4 linked regions of the Homo sapiens genome follow. The protein of the gene in region 1 interacts with the protein of each later gene in a biochemical or structural test. Each region holds a gene or a part of one and is shown in the gene's direction. Other genes may lie near its edges. The genes, in order: PRKCI, PARD3, IKBKB and CCNT1.

What was found.
Region 2: the proteins of PRKCI (region 1) and PARD3 form a complex in vitro, tested with the Homo sapiens proteins (one study listed by BioGRID).
Region 3: the proteins of PRKCI (region 1) and IKBKB form a complex in vitro, tested with the Homo sapiens proteins (one study listed by BioGRID).
Region 4: the proteins of PRKCI (region 1) and CCNT1 form a complex in vitro, tested with the Homo sapiens proteins (one study listed by BioGRID).

The regions. Positions count from the first base shown.
Region 1 is NC_000003.12:170,274,380-170,281,426, forward strand, and holds part of PRKCI (protein kinase C iota type), read left to right. Parts: intron 1-849; coding exon 850-908; intron 909-5,847; coding exon 5,848-6,024; intron 6,025-6,786; coding exon 6,787-6,884; intron 6,885-7,047.
Region 2 is NC_000010.11:34,805,254-34,812,300, reverse strand, and holds part of PARD3 (partitioning defective 3 homolog), read left to right. Parts: intron 1-7,047. UniProt on the Homo sapiens protein: Adapter protein involved in asymmetrical cell division and cell polarization processes. Seems to play a central role in the formation of epithelial tight junctions. Targets the phosphatase PTEN to cell junctions.
Region 3 is NC_000008.11:42,330,281-42,332,986, forward strand, and holds the end of IKBKB (inhibitor of nuclear factor kappa-B kinase subunit beta), read left to right. Parts: exon of another isoform or gene 1-59; intron 60-633; coding exon 634-699; 3' UTR 700-2,180; downstream 2,181-2,706.
Region 4 is NC_000012.12:48,687,958-48,692,754, reverse strand, and holds the end of CCNT1 (cyclin-T1), read left to right. Parts: 3' UTR 1-4,297; downstream 4,298-4,797. UniProt on the Homo sapiens protein: Regulatory subunit of the cyclin-dependent kinase pair (CDK9/cyclin-T1) complex, also called positive transcription elongation factor B (P-TEFb), which facilitates the transition from abortive to productive elongation by phosphorylating the CTD (C-terminal domain) of the large subunit of RNA polymerase II (RNA Pol II).

The DNA.
Region 1 (7,047 bases):
CGCCTTGGCCTCCCAAAGTGCTGGGATTACAGGCATGAGCCATGGCACCCAGCTGAAGTGACTTGTTTTTATTAAAAGCTTTATTATCAGAAGTAGAAATTATGTGAAACATAGAGAGATGCAATATAGGAAATTCCAGGAAGATGGTGTAACTGAAAACGTTAGATAGATACAAAACCTTAAACACGTATCTGGGAAATTTGGAGAGCAGTGCAAGGAGGTAGAACAGCATGATCTTCTCTGGACTAAATCAAGAAAGGGAAAACAAGGGAGTTTTTCTGGAAAGACAAAATGCAATCTCGTAGTCATAGAATGATCAACTCTATGAAATGCAGGCTCTTTTTTTTTTGCCCCAAGTAGCTTTAAGAAGTAGAAGTTCCATCCTTGTCTGTTCTTTACTTGACCATTGTGGTAGTTAGGAAAATTCTGAGTACAATGGAGTGAGAAGTGAAAACCAGAGGTCCTGTATCTCTATGTCTTAGTCATACTAAAAAATTTAAACATATCTTATAGAGTCATTTGTTTAGAAGGAAGTGTTTGATTAATTTGTAAAGAAGAGAAATGTTTTAAAAATAACGAAAGTACTTGTTAAAAGCAGTACTTGGCTACCAGGTTGTGATGCTTGCTCTCTTTACCCTCACTAAAGATTAGGATTTAACTATTGTATTTACATACAATTTGTTATTAGTAGGACAGATAGTCAGTTTTAAATAATGAAAATTTATTCAGAAGTAAAAACTAAAATAAAAATCAGGAGACAATTTTTATTTCAAACTCATTAATGGTTGCTGTTTTTTTCTCCTGCACCTTTTTTTTTTTTTTTTTTAATGTTTGGTATTGGGTTTTTAGTAATTCCATATAATCCTTCAAGTCATGAGAGTTTGGATCAAGTTGGTGAAGAAAAAGAGGTAAGATAATTTGTCTTATTGTACATTATATCATTAGCTTTTTAATAAGGCTCAGGAGTTTAAAAGTATGACATATTGACCTGCTTAGACTTTAGATCATAATGGTGAAATGCAAAAATGATTTGTAATGATTCCAGAGTTTTATTCTGATTTAATTTAGTAATTAAATTACTAATTTAAACTAGGAAATAATTTAGTGGGATAACTTATTTTCATTTTAAAATAGCTTAATCTGAAAATTACAATGTATTTAAGGATACTGTTTAAAATACTTGGTAGTATTGTTTAAAATATATAGTAGACCCTTCCGTTTTGTGCCTGAATTGCTTATTTAGACAATAAATGATTAAACATATTAACTGTCATTGTTTTTTTGACTATTAAGTATTTTATCAGTTTTTAAAACAAAACAAATAATTAAAATGATTTGATTAAAATAATAATCAGTTTTTTGAAAAAAGCTTATAGTGAAAAAGATAATCATGTCTCCCACCTTCCACTCCCAGTTTGGCTTCTTGGCAACCTTTTAAACCATTTCTAGTTATGTCCATAATATTTATATTTCTGTTTTTCAATTTTTTATTTTTGTGTATTTCTGGACATGAAAGATTTAGTTCACACTGCCTCCTCTCTTTCCCGTATCATTCTTTTTTTTTTTTTTTTTGAGTTGGGGTCTTGCTGTGTTGCCCAGGCTGGAGTGCAGTGGTGTGATTATGGCTCACTGCAACCTTAAACTCCTGGGCTCAAGTTATCTTCCCACCTTAGCCTCCCGAGTAGCTAGGACTATAGCCCTGTGCCACCACACCCAGCTAATTTTTTCATTTTCTATTTTGTAGAGACAGAGTCTCACTATGTTGCCCAAGCTAGTCCCGAACTCCTGGCCTCAAGCAGTTCTCCCAAATCAGCCTCTCTAAGTGTTAGGATTACAGGCATGAGCCACCATGCCCAGCCAAAACTTTGAAACATAAATAAAAGTAAACAATAATATAACAAAGCCCTTGTATCTATTGTTAGTTAAAACAGCTATCAATTCATGTCTAGCCTTATTTTGTCTACTCACTTCCCTCACTCCTGTATTATTTTGAAGAAACCTGTTAGTCACCTATTTGATGTTATGTTTTAGTTTCTTGTTCTGTTTGTCTGAAAAAGTCTTTTTTTCTTTTTAACTTTTTTTTTTCTTTTTATTTTTTTTGTGAGACAGGATTATTGCACAGGCACCCGTGCAGTGGTGCAATGATGGCTCACTACAGCCTCAACTTCTTGAGTTCAAGCCACCTCAGCCTCTCAGGTAGCTGGGACTACAGGCATGTGTCACCACTGGACCCTCATCACAATATACAAAAATTTACTCAAGGTGGAATAAAGATTTAAATGTAATACCTCAAACTATAAAAATCCTAGAAGAAAACCTAGGAAATATCCTCTCGACATTGGCCCCGGCAAAGAATTTTTGGCTAAGTCTCCGAAAACAATTGCAACAAAGCCAAAAATTGACAAGTGGGACCTAATTAAACTACAGAGCTTCCACGCAGCAAAAGAATCCACCAATAAACAGACAACCTAAAGAATGGGAGAAAATAGTCACAAACTATACATCCAACAAAGATCTCATATCCAGAATTTATAAGGAACTTAACAGCAAAAAACAACCCCATTAAAAAATGAGCAAAGGGCTGGGCATGGTGGCTTACACCAGTAATCCCAGCACTTTGGGAGGCAGAGTCAGGCAGATCACTTGAGGCCAGGAGTTTGAGATCAGCCTGGCTGACATAGTGAAACCCCATGTCTACTAAAAATACAAAAAAAAAAAAAAAATTAGGGCGTGGTGGCACACACCTATAATACTAGCTACTTAAGAGGTTGAGGCACGAAAATCATTGGAACTGGGGAGGCGGAGATTACAATGAGCCAAGATCATGCCACTGCACTCCAGCCTGGGCGACAGAGCAAGACACTGTTTAAAAAAAGAAAAAAAAAAGGGCAAAGGACATGAACAGACATATCTCAAAATAAGACCTATAAGCAGCCAACACACATGAAAAACCACTCATCGTCACTAATTATCAGAGAAATAGAAATCAAAACCACAGTGAGATACCATCTCACACCAGTCAGAATAGCTGTTACTAAAAAATCAACTTGGGCGTGATGGCTCACACATGTAATCCCAGCACTTTGAGAGGCTAAGGCGGAAGGATTGAGCCTGAGAGTTCAAGAGCAGCCTAGGCAACATAGTCTCTACTAAAAATACAAAAAATTAGCCAGGCTCGGTGGCAGGCGCCTGTAGTCCCAGCTGCTCGGGAGGCTGAGGCAGGAGAATGGTGTGAACCCAGGAGGCGGAGCTTGCAGTGAGCAGAGACTGTACCAGTGCACTCCAGCCTGGGCGAAAGAGCGAGACTCCGTCTCAAAAAAAAAAAAAAAAGAAAATTACAAATAACACTTTTACTGTTTCTCTAGAAGATGCAGTGACCTTGGCACACCTTAAATTCATTCCTTTTCCATTCCTGCCTTTGGGTGTTATTATTATCAGAGTTTAAAATTCTGTGTGTGTGTATATTTGTTTTTTTAAACAGTTACTCCTTATGTAGATTTACCCACATTTTACCCTTTTTGTTTTTCTTTCCTTCCTACGTCTGTTCCTCCATCTGAGATCATGCATTTTCTCCTTCAAGAACTCAATTTAGTTTTTCCTTTAGTGAGCACCTAGTAGTGATGGATCCACTCAGTTTTTCTTTGTCTGAAAATGTTTTTCTTTCACTTTCACTTTGTGAGCTACTTTTGCAGGATAGAGAATTCTAGGTCAGCTGTTTTCTTCTTTTTTAGGCCCTTTGAAGATGACATTTCACTGTTAAGTGGCGTCTATCATTTCATTCAGCCTTATTATTGTGTCGGTGAAGTTAACTCTATCTTTTTTGCTCCACTTGATTCTCTCTTATAGTTTCCAGTTAGCCATATTTCAAGTCTATGTGTTGACTTACTTTCTTACACTTCTCTTCTTTCTTAACCTTCTCAAACCTGGTTTCTTTTCACTCTGCTGTATTTACCCTTGTGTGTTAGTCTGTTTTGTGTTGTTACAAAGGAATACCTGAAGGTTGGGTGTGGCAGCTCACACCTATAATCCTAGGACTTTAGACCGGGAGGATCATTTGAGGCCAGTAGTTCAGGACCAGCCTTGGCAACATAGCAAGACCCTCCATGTCTACAAAAAATAAATAAAAATTAGCCGGGTTTGGAGGCACATGCCTGTAGCCCCAGCTACTTGGGAGACTGAGGCAGGAGGATCACTTGAGCCCAGGAGTTCATGGCTGCAGTGAGCTATGTTCGTGCCACTGCACTGCAGCCTGGGTGACAGAACAAGACCTTTTCTTAAATAAATAAATAAATGAAGGAAGGAATAAAGGAATACCTAAGGCTGGGTAATTTATACAAGATTTATTTGGTGCACGGTTCTGCAGGCTGATCAGTAAGTATTGCACTAGCATCTGCTTCTCAGGAAGCTTTCAGTCTTGGCAGAAGGCAAAGGGGAAGCAGGTGTGCCACATGGCAAGAGAGGGAGCAAGGGAGTCAGGGGAGGTGCCACACTCTGAACTCACTCATTACACAGGAACACACCAAGCCATTCATGAGGAATCTGTCCCTGTGACCCAAACACCTCCCACTAGGGATCACATTTCAGCATGAGATTTGAGATTTGGAGGGGTCAGATATACAAACTATCACCTTGTTACCAAATCAAATTATTATTATTATTACTATTATTGACAGGGTCTCACTTTGTGATGCAGGCTGGAGCGCACTGGCACAATCACAGCTCACTGCAACCTTGACCTGCCTGGCTCAGGTGATCCTCCCACCTCAGCCTCCCAGGTAGCTGGGACTACAGTGCACACCACCAACATCCGGCTAATTTTTGTATATTTTGGTAGAGATGAGGTTTCTTGGCACATTGCCCAGGCTGGTCTTGAACTCCTGGGCTCAATCAGTCCACCTGCTTCAGCCTCCCTAAGTGCTGAAAATACAGGCATGAGCCACTGTGCGCAGCCTAAATTATTATTTCTAAGTTTTTAAGTTGTCATTCTCACTCAGTTTTTCTAATACCCTTCTTTCAGTTTTGTGCTTGCGGGTTTCTTTATCTTTCTCAAAATTTACTATTTGCTTTTCTTGGTATTCTTCACTTCAGAGATTTCATACTTTATTCTCATGGGTCCATTGTGTGCTGATGATTTTGCAGGCATCTAATAAAAGACTGTCTTCAGGCTTCTCTGTAAATTGCTAGAAGCTTACATTTGTAGTTGTGAATGAATTTTAAGGCTTACTTTGTCGTCCCAAAGGGGTCTTGGTATTCTGTGGAAAAGAATGTCTTCCATTCGCTGAACTACTTCATGCTTGTTTTCTGTCTATAGCATCCAAAAACGCCTCTGAATGTGTGCTCTCACTAGCTTACATTCTATGTATCAAGCTTCCAGCAGACTCTTTCATCTTGATGTCTCATTATAACTTCTGAATTTATCATGAAAAACCCAATCGTTCTCTCCAGTAACTTTGTCAATCTTATCCTAGCCACACACTTGACGTTCCCTGTCAGTGGTACCCCCAATCTCTTGGTCACCAAGGTTAATGTGTTTTTTTAATTCCTGCATCTCTATTGCCTCTGTACCCAAAAGTTATCGTATCCTTTTTAAGACATCCTTCGATGTTTTTGTGATTTCAACTCCCTCCCCATTCTTATTACCATCCCTCTTATCTCAAAATTCATCCATATAATCTGGATAGTTAGATTATTTGGTTTGGAATGACATTTGAAAAATATTAAGAACTTAAAATATTTTTATGTTAGGAAAATATCTTTAAATCGTTATAGGTACAACTAGGTGTTAGAAATATAATGTACTACGCAAAGCATTTCCCATTATAACTCTGATACAAATGTTCTCAACAGGCAATGAACACCAGGGAAAGTGGCAAAGCTTCATCCAGTCTAGGTCTTCAGGATTTTGATTTGCTCCGGGTAATAGGAAGAGGAAGTTATGCCAAAGTACTGTTGGTTCGATTAAAAAAAACAGATCGTATTTATGCAATGAAAGTTGTGAAAAAAGAGCTTGTTAATGATGATGAGGTAAGCACTGCATATTTTATTGCTTCTAAACTGCTTGAGAATACTATTCTTTTTTTTTTTTGAAACGGAGTTTCGCTCTTGTCACCCAGCCTGGAGTGCTAGTGGTGCAATCTTGGCTCACTGCAACCTCTGCCTCCCAGGTTCAAGTGATTCTCCTGCCTCAGCCTCCCAAGTAGCTGGGATTACAGGCATGCACCACTATGCCCAGCTAATTTTTGTATTTTTAGTAGAGATGGGGTTTCACCATGTTGGCCAGGCTGCTCTTGAACTCCTGACCTCAAGTGATCCACCCGCCTCAGCCTCCCAAAGTTGCTAGGAATATAGGCGTGAGCCACCGCACCCAGCCAAGAGTACTATTTTAAAGAAAACCTCTATGTTTGTGCTTTATTATCTCATTCTGCTTTTCTAAATATGTGCTAAGTAAATGAAATATATTATTTCGGTTTACTTTTCTTATAGATGGTATAAGATATTTAAAGTAATTTGATTATTAGATTTTTTTAAAAAAACAAAAATCAAACCACATTATTATCAGGAGAAATACTTGAGCTTTGTAAAAGTTTTCTAGACAGTTTTATAATACTGAAAGATTGACTAGTGTTATTTTTCTCTTTGTATGTAAATTTTCGTTTCATGATTATCAATGGTTTTGATATTTAGCCTAGTTAACCATTGCATTTGTGACCATTGAATTGCTCAGAGCAAATTTATCATTAATTGTGATATCAGTTTGACATAGATTTCTTACATGTTTCAAAATAGGATATTGATTGGGTACAGACAGAGAAGCATGTGTTTGAGCAGGCATCCAATCATCCTTTCCTTGTTGGGCTGCATTCTTGCTTTCAGACAGAAAGCAGGTAAGATTGAAAGATAGTAGAATGATTACTGGGCTTCATATTTTTGGTCATATTACACAGTTAGAACCTTTCTGCCCTAATTCATGAAGTTGATATCATGGAGGATGCAACAGTGTTAGGCTTATAACTTCCTGCTAATAATACTGCCATCAGTGATATCAGT
Region 2 (7,047 bases), on another chromosome or scaffold:
CATGTTTATGGCTTTGGATAATAACCAACCAAGCCAAAAATAAAAAATAAAAAGGAAAAGAGAAAGGTCCCAACTCTCAAATCACCAAGGCTTTCTCTGCAGTAAACATTTTCTGGTGTGGTGGGGCTAATTTTCTGGCATTGCATGTGAGCTGTTTTCTCTTCAGATTACACAAATCAATTTTTCTGGATAGTGAAGTGTCATGATTTAATACTAGACATGTCCTCAGTGAGTAGATATTTGAAGGCTTATGCTTAGTCATGTGTGACATTTCTTTTTTCCTCTCCTGAAAGATGGTTTTGTGGTTGTGATCACTGATGGTTGGGAATAGCTGTTCATCCTCATCCACCCATCTGCATTAGGAGCCTCGCTGAGGACAGTGCGGTGCTAGACATTGGGAACCGCGTTACATGGACCGTTCTCATGAGGGCGCAGGATGGGAGGATGGACCGTGTCTGCATCTGTTCTTCTGCGCTTGCGACCTGACACGCGTGATTCCAGGTGGACATGGTGCTGAGCTGCAGCGCTGTGTGGGGTTGGTTGAAGGGCTGCTGTGTATAAAAAGTCATGCTCTATGAAAAAAATATAAGACTGAATTCGTGCAATTTTCAAAAAAAAGTATAATCTAGGAGACAGGAAGAATATATAACAGTATAAATAACAGGAGGTGGTAGCATTAATTGGCACCACTGTGATACAGTCAGTAATCGCTTCTGGATTTTGGAGGTGGGTGCTATCATTATGGGGTGTGTGTGGGAGTCTCATTTAGTCACTAGGATTTGAACTGGGCTTGGTTGGTGGGAAGGCTGACCTTGATATAGGGCAGTGCTTGCTAACTGGGTGAGGCACCTGCCTGCAGGGGCAGATGGGCTCTGGGTCTGAGGTCTGCAGTTGGGGTCTAGGTGTGTGAATCTGCAGAATGTCTGCTACGATTCTGATAAGTGAAAGGGAGGGCATTCCAGGAAGGCAGTATGGACAAAGGCGATTCAGGCATTCAGCCCAGGGGGTCAGGATCAAACTGAGGAGGACAGAATGCCAGGGCAAGACCCTGAGACTTCGTGCAGTAGGAAGGACTGTGGTGTTTAGCTAAGAGTCAGGGTAACAAGTAGTTCTAGGAGGATGACCTGAGCAACCTTAGATGAGGTTTGGATGGATAATTCCTTAGCATTTCATTCTAAATAAAGGTTGCTGAGTGACCAAAAGGGGAAGGAGAGAGTGAAGGGCAAAAGTGAGGGCAAGGAGGTGCTGGAGCCCCTTTGCTCACTGTTCCCACCTCCCTCATAGCTCTCCTCTCAGCCTGTAGGGGAGCTTTGGATTGGGTTTGGTGACTTAGGTTTACAAGCCATTTAACCTTGGGTATAGGGGAGCTTTGTATTGGGTTTGGTGACTTAGGTTTACAGGCCATTTAACCTTGGGTACACCAACCCTACGGAGCCCCATTATCTCAAGTGGAATATTCCCTGGCAGGGTTAATGTAAGTATTAAACAGGATGATGAGAGGGAAACTCTAAAGTCCTGGGCCCGGCCCATACTAGCTGCTCCGTAAAGATGAATGGAATCACCAATATGTTTTATCCACCAAGCAGTTTTACACCCAGGGAACTTTCCCAGGTGTCCCACTATTGCTGCTTGGATTTTTCCTGTTTACTTAAAAACGCAGCATGTAATTTCATTGAAGGATAGGTAAGAATGTGAGATTGAATGACGTGCAGCACCACAATCAGGAGAACAAAATTGTGTGTTGCATGTGTGTATGGGCTGGGGAAGTAAAAGCTGCGGGTATTGGCTTGATTACAGGTTGATTATTGGGGCCTCTGGCTTCTGTCCCCAAGCACATCACTTTAGAGTGATTTAATAGCAACCTGTTGTTATTACAGGTTGAGCATCCTTTATCCAAAATACTTGGGACCACACAAGTATTTTGGATTTTTCTGGACTTTGGGATATTTTTGTATATATAATGAGATAGGTTGAAGATGGAACCCAAGTCTAATGTATTGTTAGAATTTATGTTTCCTACGTACCTTATACACATAGCCTGAAGGTAATTTTATGCAGTATTTTTGTGCTTGAAAATAAGTCTGTGGTAAGTACTTACATGTGGAATTTTCCAGGTGTGGCGTCATGTGGGTGCTCAGTAAGTTTCAGATTTTGGAGTATTTTGGATTTTGGATTTTTCAATTAGGGATGCTTGACCTGTATTTTTTAAAAAGTTGAGCTCATGGACAGAAACTTTTGAAAATGTGCTTTTTTGGTGGCGGGAGACTGTTGATTAGTAACAATGACAGTCATGGTTTTTATGAAAAATCTTGTGGTTGGTATGGAATTTTTCTGTGAATAAATGTATGACTGCATGTTATTCATTTACAAGCGTATTGAAACTTTTAAGAAAATAGTTGTACTGTTGCAGAGATTGAAAGAAAATAGAGGCAAGCATAAAAATAGTGAAATGAAAGCAGCTTTATTTATTTATTTATTTTTTTAACATTTTCTGCCTTCCCTCTAAAAAGGAAAAAGAAACTAAACATTTTTGAAAGGCTGATCTTTCCAGAATTCAAGTCACATTGTCCTCTGGTGCTGAAGCGCCTTTGTCCCGCGTTCTCCAAGTCCTGCCTTCTGAGCACAGCCTGTCCCTGTAGGGACCCCTCTTGCCTTCCAGCCACTCCCTCTGCAGCTGCTCCACCCCCTGGGACTCACATACACTTTGCTGCCTCTGTTCTGGCATTTTCTGTTTCTTCTGCCTGGGACATTTGCTCCTTCCTTGCACTCATTCGTGAGTCTTAGCCCAGACAGCCATCTCCAGGAGGCTGGCTCTCCATCCCAAGCTGCTAGAGGATCTTTCTCCCTGCCTGCTGCCTCTCCTGGGGACGTCCTGGGTGTAGCTCCTGTACCGACTCAGATGCTTGGGCTGTGCTGTGTGGTTTTCAAGTGTATCCGTGCGCCCTTCCTCCCTCCGGGTGAAATGCTTGAAGCGGTGGCTGAGCTTCAGTCTTGGTGAATAGCCCGTGTCTGTCACATTGCAGTCAGAATGTTGAGTAAATAGAAAGCTGAGAATCAACATGTTACACTGCTCTCACACAAAAAATACACTTCTGCTGAGAGGACTATCATCAGCACTCGTGAATTTAAAGGACTTTAAGGTTTGGTGTGTTTGACCTACTGGCACAAACAGCTTGTAATGGAAACTAAGATTTAATGAGGTTTGGAGTACTTGGAAGTTACTCTTTCGTATCAGCTGTCTTGAGGGAGTTCAGTTTGTTTTTCAGCTCAAGCAGAGGACCCTCCTGGGATTCGCCTTGGGCGAGGTTCAAGGCAGGTGGCCAGGGCTGTGTGAGAATCTGGCCCTGGAACACACCTATGCTTGGTCTGGCGCCTCTGATTCCGTCAGTTGAGATGCTTGGCTGAGTGCCAGGACTAAGTAGGAATGTTTAGGATCTGAGATTCTCAGAGAGAATCTGGCGGATGTGAAGCGCTTCTTGGCTTGTGGTAGACATGGATAAATTGGTTGTGGAGGGAATATTTAAAGTCCCACTTGGATGCAAACCCACAGACGGATCCTCCGTCTGTCCTGGGAGGTTCTACCTCCCCACAGAGTTGGGTGCAAGTTGGTGATGTTGAGCTCCCCATAGATGATTAGAGCCCTCGGTATTTTTTATCAAGGATGGAAATAAACATGTAAGATTGGGCCAGAAGGTGCTTTCTATAGGTAATTTTCCATCGGGGGAGATGGCATGCTAAGCCCACACAGCATGCTTTCATCCTGCTTGGCCACTCGCTCAACATTCCTGGCTGGGACCAAGGTCAATGGCAGTAGAGCTGGACATCAGTAAATGTATACAGTTTTACCTGTTTTGGGTACCTTTTCTGTACAAAAGCAAATCTTTATCAAAATAAATGCCGAGTTCAGTGAATAAAGTAGAAAGATGACTGATTTTTTTTTGTCTTTTAGTCATTATTTACAAGTTTTTTCTTTCTTTCTTTTGTTTTTTTTGAGACAGGGTCTTTGTCACCCAGGCTGGAGTGAAGTGGCGTGATCTCTGCTCACTGCAGCCTCAACCTCCCAGGCTCAAGCGATCCTCCTGCCTCAGTCCCCCAAGTAGCTGGGACTACAGTTGTGTGCCGCCACACCTGGCTAATTTTTGTAGTTTTTGTAGAGACGGCATCTCGCCATGTTGGCTAGGCTGATCTCAAACACCTGAGCTCAAGCAATCCACCTGCCTTGGTCCTCCAGAGTGCTGGGATTACAGGCACGAGCCACCATGCCTGGCCTAAATTTTAGCAAATAAGTAAAAATAACTTTGTTTTAACTTATTTAGTAAATAAGTAAACATTTTAGTAAATAAAGTTAAAATAACTTTCGTGTATAGGTCTGTGCCTTCTTGCATCTGGCCTGCTATCTTTACGTGGTTTTTGCCATTTAAATATTACTTTTGTGTATTCCTTTTTTCTCCATCAACTCATATTGGTCCTTGCAAGTAAAATTTCAAGCTCCACATCCAAGTGACTTTAAATATCAATTATTTATTTTTTTCACCTAAACAGAGTATATTTTGTATATAGTCTCTGTACTCTATTCTGTATATATTTTATATATACTCTTTATATATATACACACACACACAAGCACACAAGAGAAATGAAAATGTGTACACAAAACCTGTACATCAGTGTTCATAGCAGCAAGCCCACATATTGTATAATTCTGTTCCTATAACATGACCAGAGTGGGTAGCTCTATAGAGACAGTAGAGTGGTGTTCCGCTAGGACTGGGAGTTTGGAGTCATGGAGACTGTGAATGGGTATGAGGTTTCCTTTTGGGATGATGAAAATATTCTAAGATCATGGTGATGGTTGCACAGTTCTATTCAAGTGTATACTTTCAATGGATGGAGTTTATGGTTATGTGATTATATGTCAATAAAGATGTTAGAAAAATAGACTGCATAAGCCACTATGAACAACGCTCCATTTTTAGGTATTTTGTAGTTCTGAGCATTTCATAAAATGACATATATATGTGTATCAGAGATGCTCAAAACACTTCAAATGAAAACTGGCTGTCTTTAGGAGTTTTCCATATAGTGTGGAATCCCTGCTTTCTCAGGCCTGTCCAATGTGTCCTGTTTAGTGTCTGGTAAGCTCCTGGCTGCTGAGCCTCCAGGTCCCCTGGTCTCTGTGTGCTACCCCCTACCCCCTCTAAGGGCTTCACCAATTGTTCTTTAGCCAGAGACTCCTTCTACCCAGCTCGCCAGCTACCTTTGTGCAGTGGAGGTTGAGAATGCCCCAAGGATGCACGTAATGGACCAGCCTTTCCAGCATTTGGCTTTGGCTCCCAGAAATTTTGAGCTTTGGCAAATCTTACAAGCTCTGTGAGCCTCTGTTTCCCCATGTTCTCATATTCAGAGGTGCTGGGCTGGACTCCCACTGCCAGTTCCCTGAGCTGTGCAGGGACTCCTGCTCTGCATGGTTTGTTTTGGTGCTCATGGGACCATAAGTGATGTGCAGTGGCTTTTCAGATGGTTATACAGGGTCCAGGACCTCTTACTGCTTCCCTCCATGCTGTGAGAATATTTTGCCTCACCCCGACCCCCCCAACTTTGAAATGACGGGGCTTGCTCTCCAGGTCAAATGGATGCTATTCAGAGTTAGGGTAAATTTTGCTTAGGGTTGGCTGGGTGAGAAGGCTCACGCCTGTAATCCCAGAGCTTTGGGAAGCTGAGGTGGGAGGATTGCTTGAGGCCAGGAGTTCAAGACCCAGCCTGGGCAACATAGTGAGACCCCGTCTCTTTTTAAAAAAATTAGCCAGGCATAGGCCGGGTGTGGTGGCTCACGCCTGTAATCCCAGTACTTTGGGAGGCCGAGGTGGGTGGATCACGAGGTCAGGAGTTCGAGCCTGGCCAAAGTAGTGAAACCCCATCTCTACTTAAAGTACAAAAAATAGCTGGGCATGGTGGTGCACACCTATAATCACAGCTACTTGGGAGGCTGAGGCAAGAGAATCACTTGAATCCTGGGAGGCAGAGGTTGCAGTGAGCCAAGATAGCGACACTGCACTCCAGCCTGGGCGATGGGGAGATTCATCTCAAAAAAAAAAAAAAAAAATTAGCCAGACATGGTTGTGTGCATCTTTAGTCCCAGCTGCTCAGGAGGCTGACGTGGGAGGATTGCTTGAGCTCAGGAGTTTGAGATTGCAGTGAACTATGATGGTGTCACTGCACTCCAGCTTGGGTGACACAGCGAGACTCTGTCTCTAACAGAAAAAAAAAATTTGTCTAGGGTGTCCTTCAGAATTTCCTTCCTTCTTCCTTTTTTTTTGTCTTTTTGAGACGGAGTCTCGCTCTGTCGCCCAGGCTGGAGTGCAGTGACGTGATTTCGGCTCACTGCAAGCTCCACCTCCTAGGTTCACGCCATTCTCCTGCCTCAGCCTCCCGAGTAGCTGGGACTACAGGTGCCCACCACCACGCCTGGCTAATTTTTTTGTATTTTTAGTAGAGGTGGGGTTTCACCGTGTTAGCCAGGATGGTCTCGATCTCCTGACCTCGTGATCCGCCTGTCTCAGCCTCCCAAAGTGCTGGGATTACAGGCGTGAGCCACCGCGCCCGGCCCCAGAATTTCTTATTGTCTCAAGGTAAGTATCTTTTAATGTAAATCACATCATGCTCAGAAGTGACTAAGACAATTCCCTTTGTGAATTACAGATGTATGATATTGCATGATACGAACTGTACGGTGTATATATATATATATATATATATATGCACATACGTGTGTATTTCTGGGGTGATCTTTTATGGTGGTATAAATTTAAGTCATTTTAGAGATGATAGTCAAGTCAACATTCTCCCAATCTTGGTGTTTTTAACTATTCAGACACTGTAAGATTTAAGGTTTTGGAACTCAGATGTATATTTTTCTAGTGTCTGGTTTTTCCCTTCTTGTATTTGAGACGGAGTCTCACTTTGTTGCCCAGGCTGCAGTGCAGTGGCAGAGTCTCGGCTCACTGCAACCTCTGCCTCCTGGGTTCAAGCGATTCTCCTGTCTCAGCC
Region 3 (2,706 bases), on another chromosome or scaffold:
TTAGCTTAAGAGTACCCTGCAGTCACAAGATTTATTAATAAAAGGGTTTGGCTTTTTAATTTGTATTTGTTTAATTTATTTGTTTTATGCAGCCTGGGTCTTGCTATGTTGCCCAGGCTGGTCTTGAACTCCTGGCCTCAAGCGATCCGCTCGCCTCTGCCTCCCAAAGTGCTGGAACTATAGGCATGAGCCACCATACCCAGCCAATAAAGGGGTTTCAATATATTTCTTTTTATTTTTTATTTTTTGAGATGGAGTCTTGCTCTTTTGCCCAGGGTGGAGTGCAATGGCACGATCTCAGCTCACTGCAACCCCTACCTCCCAGGTTCAAGTGATTCTCCTGCCTCAGCCTCCTGAGTAGCTGGGACTATAGGAGCTTGCCACCACGCCTGGCTAATTTTGTATTTTTAGTAGAAATGGGGTTTCACCATTTTGGCCAGGCTGGTCTCGAACTCCTGACCTCATGATCTGCCCACCTTGGCCTCCCAAAGTGTTGGGATTATAGGCATGAGCCACTGTGCCTGGCTGGGTTTTAGTATATTTCTCAATTGTCCTGATTTCCTCCTGAAGAGGAAAAATAACCTGAAATGTGTTGGTGGCTGTTGTTTTTTTAACATGTCTGTTGACTTTCAGGCCCTAGACTGGAGCTGGTTACAGACGGAAGAAGAAGAGCACAGCTGCCTGGAGCAGGCCTCATGATGTGGGGGGACTCGACCCCCTGACATGGGGCAGCCCATAGCAGGCCTTGTGCAGTGGGGGGACTCGACCCCCTGACATGGGGCTGCCTGGAGCAGGCCGCGTGACGTGGGGCTGCCTGGCCGCGGCTCTCACATGGTGGTTCCTGCTGCACTGATGGCCCAGGGGTCTCTGGTATCCAGATGGAGCTCTCGCTTCCTCAGCAGCTGTGACTTTCACCCAGGACCCAGGACGCAGCCCTCCGTGGGCACTGCCGGCGCCTTGTCTGCACACTGGAGGTCCTCCATTACAGAGGCCCAGCGCACATCGCTGGCCCCACAAACGTTCAGGGGTACAGCCATGGCAGCTCCTTCCTCTGCCGTGAGAAAAGTGCTTGGAGTACGGTTTGCCACACACGTGACTGGACAGTGTCCAATTCAAATCTTTCAGGGCAGAGTCCGAGCAGCGCTTGGTGACAGCCTGTCCTCTCCTGCTCTCCAAAGGCCCTGCTCCCTGTCCTCTCTCACTTTACAGCTTGTGTTTCTTCTGGATTCAGCTTCTCCTAAACAGACAGTTTAATTATAGTTGCGGCCTGGCCCCATCCTCACTTCCTCTTTTTATTTCACTGCTGCTAAAATTGTGTTTTTACCTACTACTTTGGTGGTTGTCCTCTTTTCGGCAAAGTTGGAGCGAGTGCCAAGCTCTCCATCTGTGGTCCTTTCTGCCAAGAGCGACTCATAGTAACCAGGATGGGAGAGCAGCTGCCTTATTCTGAATCCCAAAAATTACTTGGGGGTGATTGTCACAGAGGAGGGACAGAAAGGGTATCTGCTGACCACCAGCCTGCCTACCCATGCCCATGTCTCCATTCCTGCTCAAGCGTGTGTGCTGGGCCGGGGAGTCCCTGTCTCTCACAGCATCTAGCAGTATTATTAAATGGATTCATTTTAAAAATAGCTCCTATATTTTGTAACATGTCTCAAACACTCATACTGGGTTCCACAATCCACTGTTAGAATACCTATGGTTAGGGCTTCTGAACTAAAATAATGGAAAATTTTAACAATTTGTATAGTGCCTGGATCATTACTAGTGCCATAACCCTGCTTCTTCAACATTTCACAGAACTTCTCTTTTATATAAAGGCAAGAGCACAAAATGAGTTCAGATGATCACAAACAGGTGAGTTTTGTTGGAGAAGAAAGTTGGAGTAGGAGACTTTCACAAGTGGTTTCCATGGAGATAGAATGAAGCATTCTGTGGTCAAGTAAGTTTAGGGAGCTATTCATGTTTCACTTGCTTTGTGGAGATTCACACTATGCACTGGGAAAGTATCTGAAAAGTCTTATAATAAAGAAACAGGCTTAACTTTGTGTAAGAACACTGTTTATCAATGTCATTTGGCTATAGAAACATTTTCTCCTGCTGATTGTGTGTGTGAAACATGTATTAACATTCCAATGAACTAGCATTTAATAAAGCACAATTTTGGAAACCCTGGTAAATGACAGTGGGAAATAACACCCGAAAGGCAAGGACGGGCAGATTGGGGAGGGAAAGGATGTTGGGCTAAGGGCTGTGAGCTTATGTTACAGGCAACTGAGCCACTGAAGAATTTTGACGAAGAAAATGCCAACCAAAGCAGTCATTTTAAAAGTTTATGGCTGTTCAGTTACAGGACAAGTTGTGAAAAGAAAGAAAAAAAATGGAAAAAAAAAAAGTTTATGGCTGAAACAGTGTAATTGATTAAAAAGTGAAAATCCAGGCCGGGCGCGGTGGCTCACGCCTGTAATTCCAACACTTTGGGAGGCTGAGGCAGGCAGATCACCTGAGGTCGGGAGTTCGAGACCAGCCTGACCAATATGGAGAAACCCCGTCTCTACTAAAAATACAAAAGCCAGGCGTGGTGGGACATGCCTGTAATCCCAGCTACTCGGGAGGCTGAGGCAGGAGAATCGCTTGAACCTAGGAGGCAGAGGTTGCAGTGAGCAGAGATTGTGCCATTGCACTCCAGCCTGGGCAAAAAGAGCG
Region 4 (4,797 bases), on another chromosome or scaffold:
TAATTAGGTTGATTGGAGTTGATATCTTCCCTCTTCTTGCCAGAGCTGAAAAATGGAGGGTTTCTTGTATCAGACAATTGTGGATCCTTTCGGTGTTTAATATATCAGAAGAGAGGAAGTATTTAAACGTCAAATCTTTTAATAGACTTAATAATTTAAAGAAAGTAAGTTATCTGTTTAGTTTTTTTATATAATTGGGAAGGGGATAGGGATTTTGCTGTGTGTATATGATACATAGCAGTAACTCCTGGTGGGTGGGATTGGAGGGTGGGAATGTGTGAGGGTGGGTGGGAGGCTAGGTTTTTGGCTAGGAGTTCTGAAATAGGCTCAGGCCACTTTTTTCAGACTTTTAAGTGTGTATGTAAGTGTGGGTATGTGTGTTTTTAAGTGTGTGTGTTTAAAAATAATGTTTTATCTTCCCTCCCTGTTCCTTACCGTTTTCATTTTCCAACAGTCTACTAGAGAAAAACATGGTTGGCCTTGAGAACATAAAGGAAGAGGCATGTATTTGACATGGTATTTTTCCCTTTCTTTATGTTATAATTGAGTAGTAGCCCTCTAATTTGTAGTTTGGGCAAGTACAGCCAACACCCTGACTCTTAACCTTATTATGAGAACTTCCTTTTTACCCCTTTTTTTGTTTTTGTGCAAAACAGAGATGGGGTTGAGGAAGGAGGGTTGGCGAGCAAGGCCAGCTTCTGCCCTACAGAATTGGGTGTGTCTTTTTTTTCAAGTGAGGCTTTGGGAAAGTGTTCAAATGAGAGCAGTCTTAAGGTCTCTAAGAGATGGGGAATGTGCTATGTATATCCTGCCTGTGAAAGCCCAAACCATATGGGAGAAGCTAGAGGATACTAAAAACAATGAAATTGTGATTTGGAAGTTTAGAACATTGTTTTAAAAATTACATTATAAATGTAAGACATGCTTTTTATGTGTATATCCGAAGGGAAACAGCTACATCCTCAAGTTTTTGCAGCCTATATGACTTGAGATTGGAGCTTGTGAATTTAACAGTACTGGTGCCATGAGAATGAGCAAAGCCTAGCCAATGGATACTATTGTGTTTAGATTGTTCATCTTTGGTAGCTTTAGGTTCTTGATCGAGGTTCTTAAGATTTCTAAGTCCTTTATAAAAATAGGTCAAGAGTCCTGTTGTTATGGAGGCTTGATTATCCCAGATATTAGGAGTGAACATTTTTAATAAATCTTTCAGAAAATCTTGGCTAGAAAGAATTCTAAGTTAGTTGTCTAACCACTGAAAACTACCTAGCCAGAGATCATTTAATGAGATATTCTTTGATCTTCATTGCATTTTTTTTGCTCTGGAAAAGGTGGTTCAATTTGAGTTTGTTTTCATGATTTGATTGCAGCTTACTTCATGCCAAGGATTTTTTAGGGAGAGGTCGAATTATTTTTCATTTGGAAGTCATAGGGAGACAGGAGTTGTACTTATGCTGCTACTTGCCAGGAACAGGTTGGGAAGAAAATTGTGGCTGTTGGAATTGATGATGTACTGGCCTAATATAGAAAGGAATTTGTAGGCAGGAGTAAACGTTAACTGACGGTGGGTTAGTGCCCTGCATCTTGCATATTTGAACTGTCTAGAGTTCCTGCCATTGCTGGGTATAAAACGAGGAGCTCTCTGTTGACCTGTAAATCATTAATACTTCTTGACTTAGAGTGTCACTTCACTTTATAGATGACATTTTCCTCTTTCCCCTTGATATTTTCTATGTTGTGTTAGATAATTGGTAGATATATAGTTGTGGTTTAGTACATTTAGGGCTTCTATTTATTTAGATTTTGTTTGTTGGAGTCTGTTTCCAAAAGGGAATGTGCCATTTAGTCTGCATCTGTATCTTTGTGGACTTGATGATCACTGGTTTGATTTTGAAAAATGTCTTTTCCAGCTTTTAGTTACTCTCATCAAATGTCACATATTTTCTAATCACATGCACTCCTTTACCACAGAGGCACATAATCATTTGGCCTCATAGCAGTTATCCATGGCCGTACTGTAGTAAAGTTCCTTAGAACTTTGCCAGGAGTGAACTAGAAAAAAGTGCTTACTAGGGCCTAAGAGTTGCTTTGTGCCGTGTAGTCCGGCCTTTGCACTAGTAGATCATTGCTGACATAGGTCAGTTTAGAGACCTTTCTGTGTTAATGCCTCCTGGTACTGTCTTAAGATACGTACAGTGTCTGTTTTTAGATCTATGCATATGTCATGAAGCTCCTTGTGGGCTCTGCATGAAGCTGCTGCTTTGTTTTTGGGTTAACAGATGTGCCTGTCAACTAGCATGTGTATTGTCCAAATTCCATAAACTTAAGGTTTTTAAGGGCTGTGTGGTTTCTGAGCTCTATGTGTCTTTCCTATCCTTGTACCTTCAAAGGGTGAGAAATGAGATTTATACATCCAAAGTTAGTCTGATAAATATGGCTTTTTGTTTCTCCATGTAACCTAGACTGTCAAAAATAAGTGATGGTGATAAGTAGGCCTGGAGCCTCAGCTTCTGTAAATCTCATTCCTAAAATTTTGCTAGACTCGTGTTGGCAAAAACAAATACCTGTGGATTGTCCTTAAGGCTTTTAATCAGATACCTGTGTTGCTGTTAGCTGAACTGTAGTGAAGCATCGATCCAAATCGGTCTTCTGAAGTATCAGTTATGCTTTTGAGTTTAGAAAATACTTAGGTGTTAGTCTAGTCTTCCCATTCATGAATCAGTGTATGTCCATATCAGAGAGCCTCAACTTCTTTTTTCTTCCTTTTTAAAAATGATTTTAGTGTTTTGATTTAGTGTATACTACATAGTTCAGTATTATTGGCTTTACCAGTGTTGACAGAAAAATTTTAAATCTCCAGTTGCAAACAGCAATGGATTAGGATATGGAAATAAAATCATGGTGACATCACTGCTGAGTTATCTTAAACCTCTGCTACTTAATTCTCCATATTGAAATGCATACTCCTCCACATACATGGCTTCCAAGTAAAGGCAATTGTAGAGGGGCCCTGTCTATCCCAGTATGGTTGGATTTTAAACATATCTGTGTTTCCGTTATTTTGGGAACTGATTAATATTTACAATTTTTTTTGTTTATGAGTTATTTTGATACTAAGAAAAGAGAGAATCTAGAACATCTTGCAGTTGAAATACAAATTTTATTCTTTTGGTCTTGGGAGAATTTAAGCAGTCTATGCAACTCATCAAATGGTGAGAAATAGCCCTCCGAGGTTCCAGTAAGCTTTCAGTGACTTTGATACCTCCCCAAGTTTCTTGAGTTGCTGCTTGTTAACACCCAGCTTTTAACTGAGTGTTTGCTCCTGATGGTTTAGGAGATTTTCATGTTGTATCACACTGTCAAGTTTTATTTTGTCTTTTTATCCCTCCGTGGATGTGAGTTTGAAACAAGCACGGTACAGTAATCCTGCCTGATAGAGTAGTCTGGAATGAGAATTACTTTTTGGGTGAGAGAGTTCTCCATTTTAATGTTTCTAAAGTTTTTCATATGAACTTGGCATTGGAAAAGGGAGGTAAAGAAAAAGGACGTTTACTAAAAGCAGTGTCTACTCTTCCCCTTTGTGAGTGTTTATTCATGGCTAATGAAAAAAAGAGAAGGACTCTTGGGTTTTGTGTTGCCATGTTAAGCATGGAGAGGGATGCTTGACAGCATGCTAATTGAAGCCAGAGCAAGTATGTCCTTCATCAGGTAATCAGGAACTCTTCAGTTGAAGCTGAGGAACTAACTGATTAGTTGTTGATCATAATATAATTGGTTACAAAGTGGAAGTGCCAGCTGGCTTAAGTACCCAAAGAAAAGAATGCAGCAGCCTAACTTAGTGTTACCATATGTTACTGAATTTGAAACTGACCTTTTTTCCCACCCTACTTCACACACCTAAAACTCTTTTCTTGTCAGACCAAAGAGCGAAAAGAAAAAAAAAAGTAAAACACTTTACCAATCTGTCACTCAGGTACAATTTTGTGGTGAGATTTTTGTCTGTTCTCTTTGTATTGCTCTTAAGAGTCCTTTCTCAGCATATTATTCTGCCATTGCCTCTGTCTTCCTTGGGGCACCTCAGCTCTGGATGCTACCCCTGGGATATCTACTGCTGTTATGTGAATGATAGGAGGTAAGTGACCATTATAGTAAGGGCTCTTTGTAAAAAAATTCAAAAAATTTAAAAAGGATGTATACATTTTATAGTCTGGCTATCAGTTTGATATCTTGCTGTCAAGTATGTTTCTCAATCTGTATTTATCCATCCCATCAATAAATGTTAATGGTAAAACACTCATTTGATTGTTGTTTATGTGTACTGTCCTCAAATTAGTCCTTAGTCTTTTTTTTTTTTTTTTTGAGACGGAATCTAGCCCTGTCACCCAGGCTGGAGAGTACAGTGGCGTGATCTCGGCTCACTGCAACCTCTGCTTCCCGGGTTCAAGCGATTCTCCTGTCTCAGCCTCCTGAGTTGCTGGGATTACAGGCACCCACCACTATGCCCAGCTAATTTTTGTATTTTTAGTCGAGACGGGGTTTCACTGTGTTGGCCAGGCTGGTCTCGAACTCTTGACCTCAGGTGATCTACCCACCTCGGCCCCCCAAAGTGCTGGGATTACAGGCATGAGCCACCGCGTCCAGCCTAGTCCTTAGTCTTTAACTGTAATTTTATTGATATGTTTACAATTTTGTTTCAATTTTGGTATTAGTCTGTTTTCTTATTGTGCAAGATCCTGTGGGAATTGAGTCCGTTGGAAAGACCCAAGATTTGTCGATCAGTAAACCCAGTAGTATAAA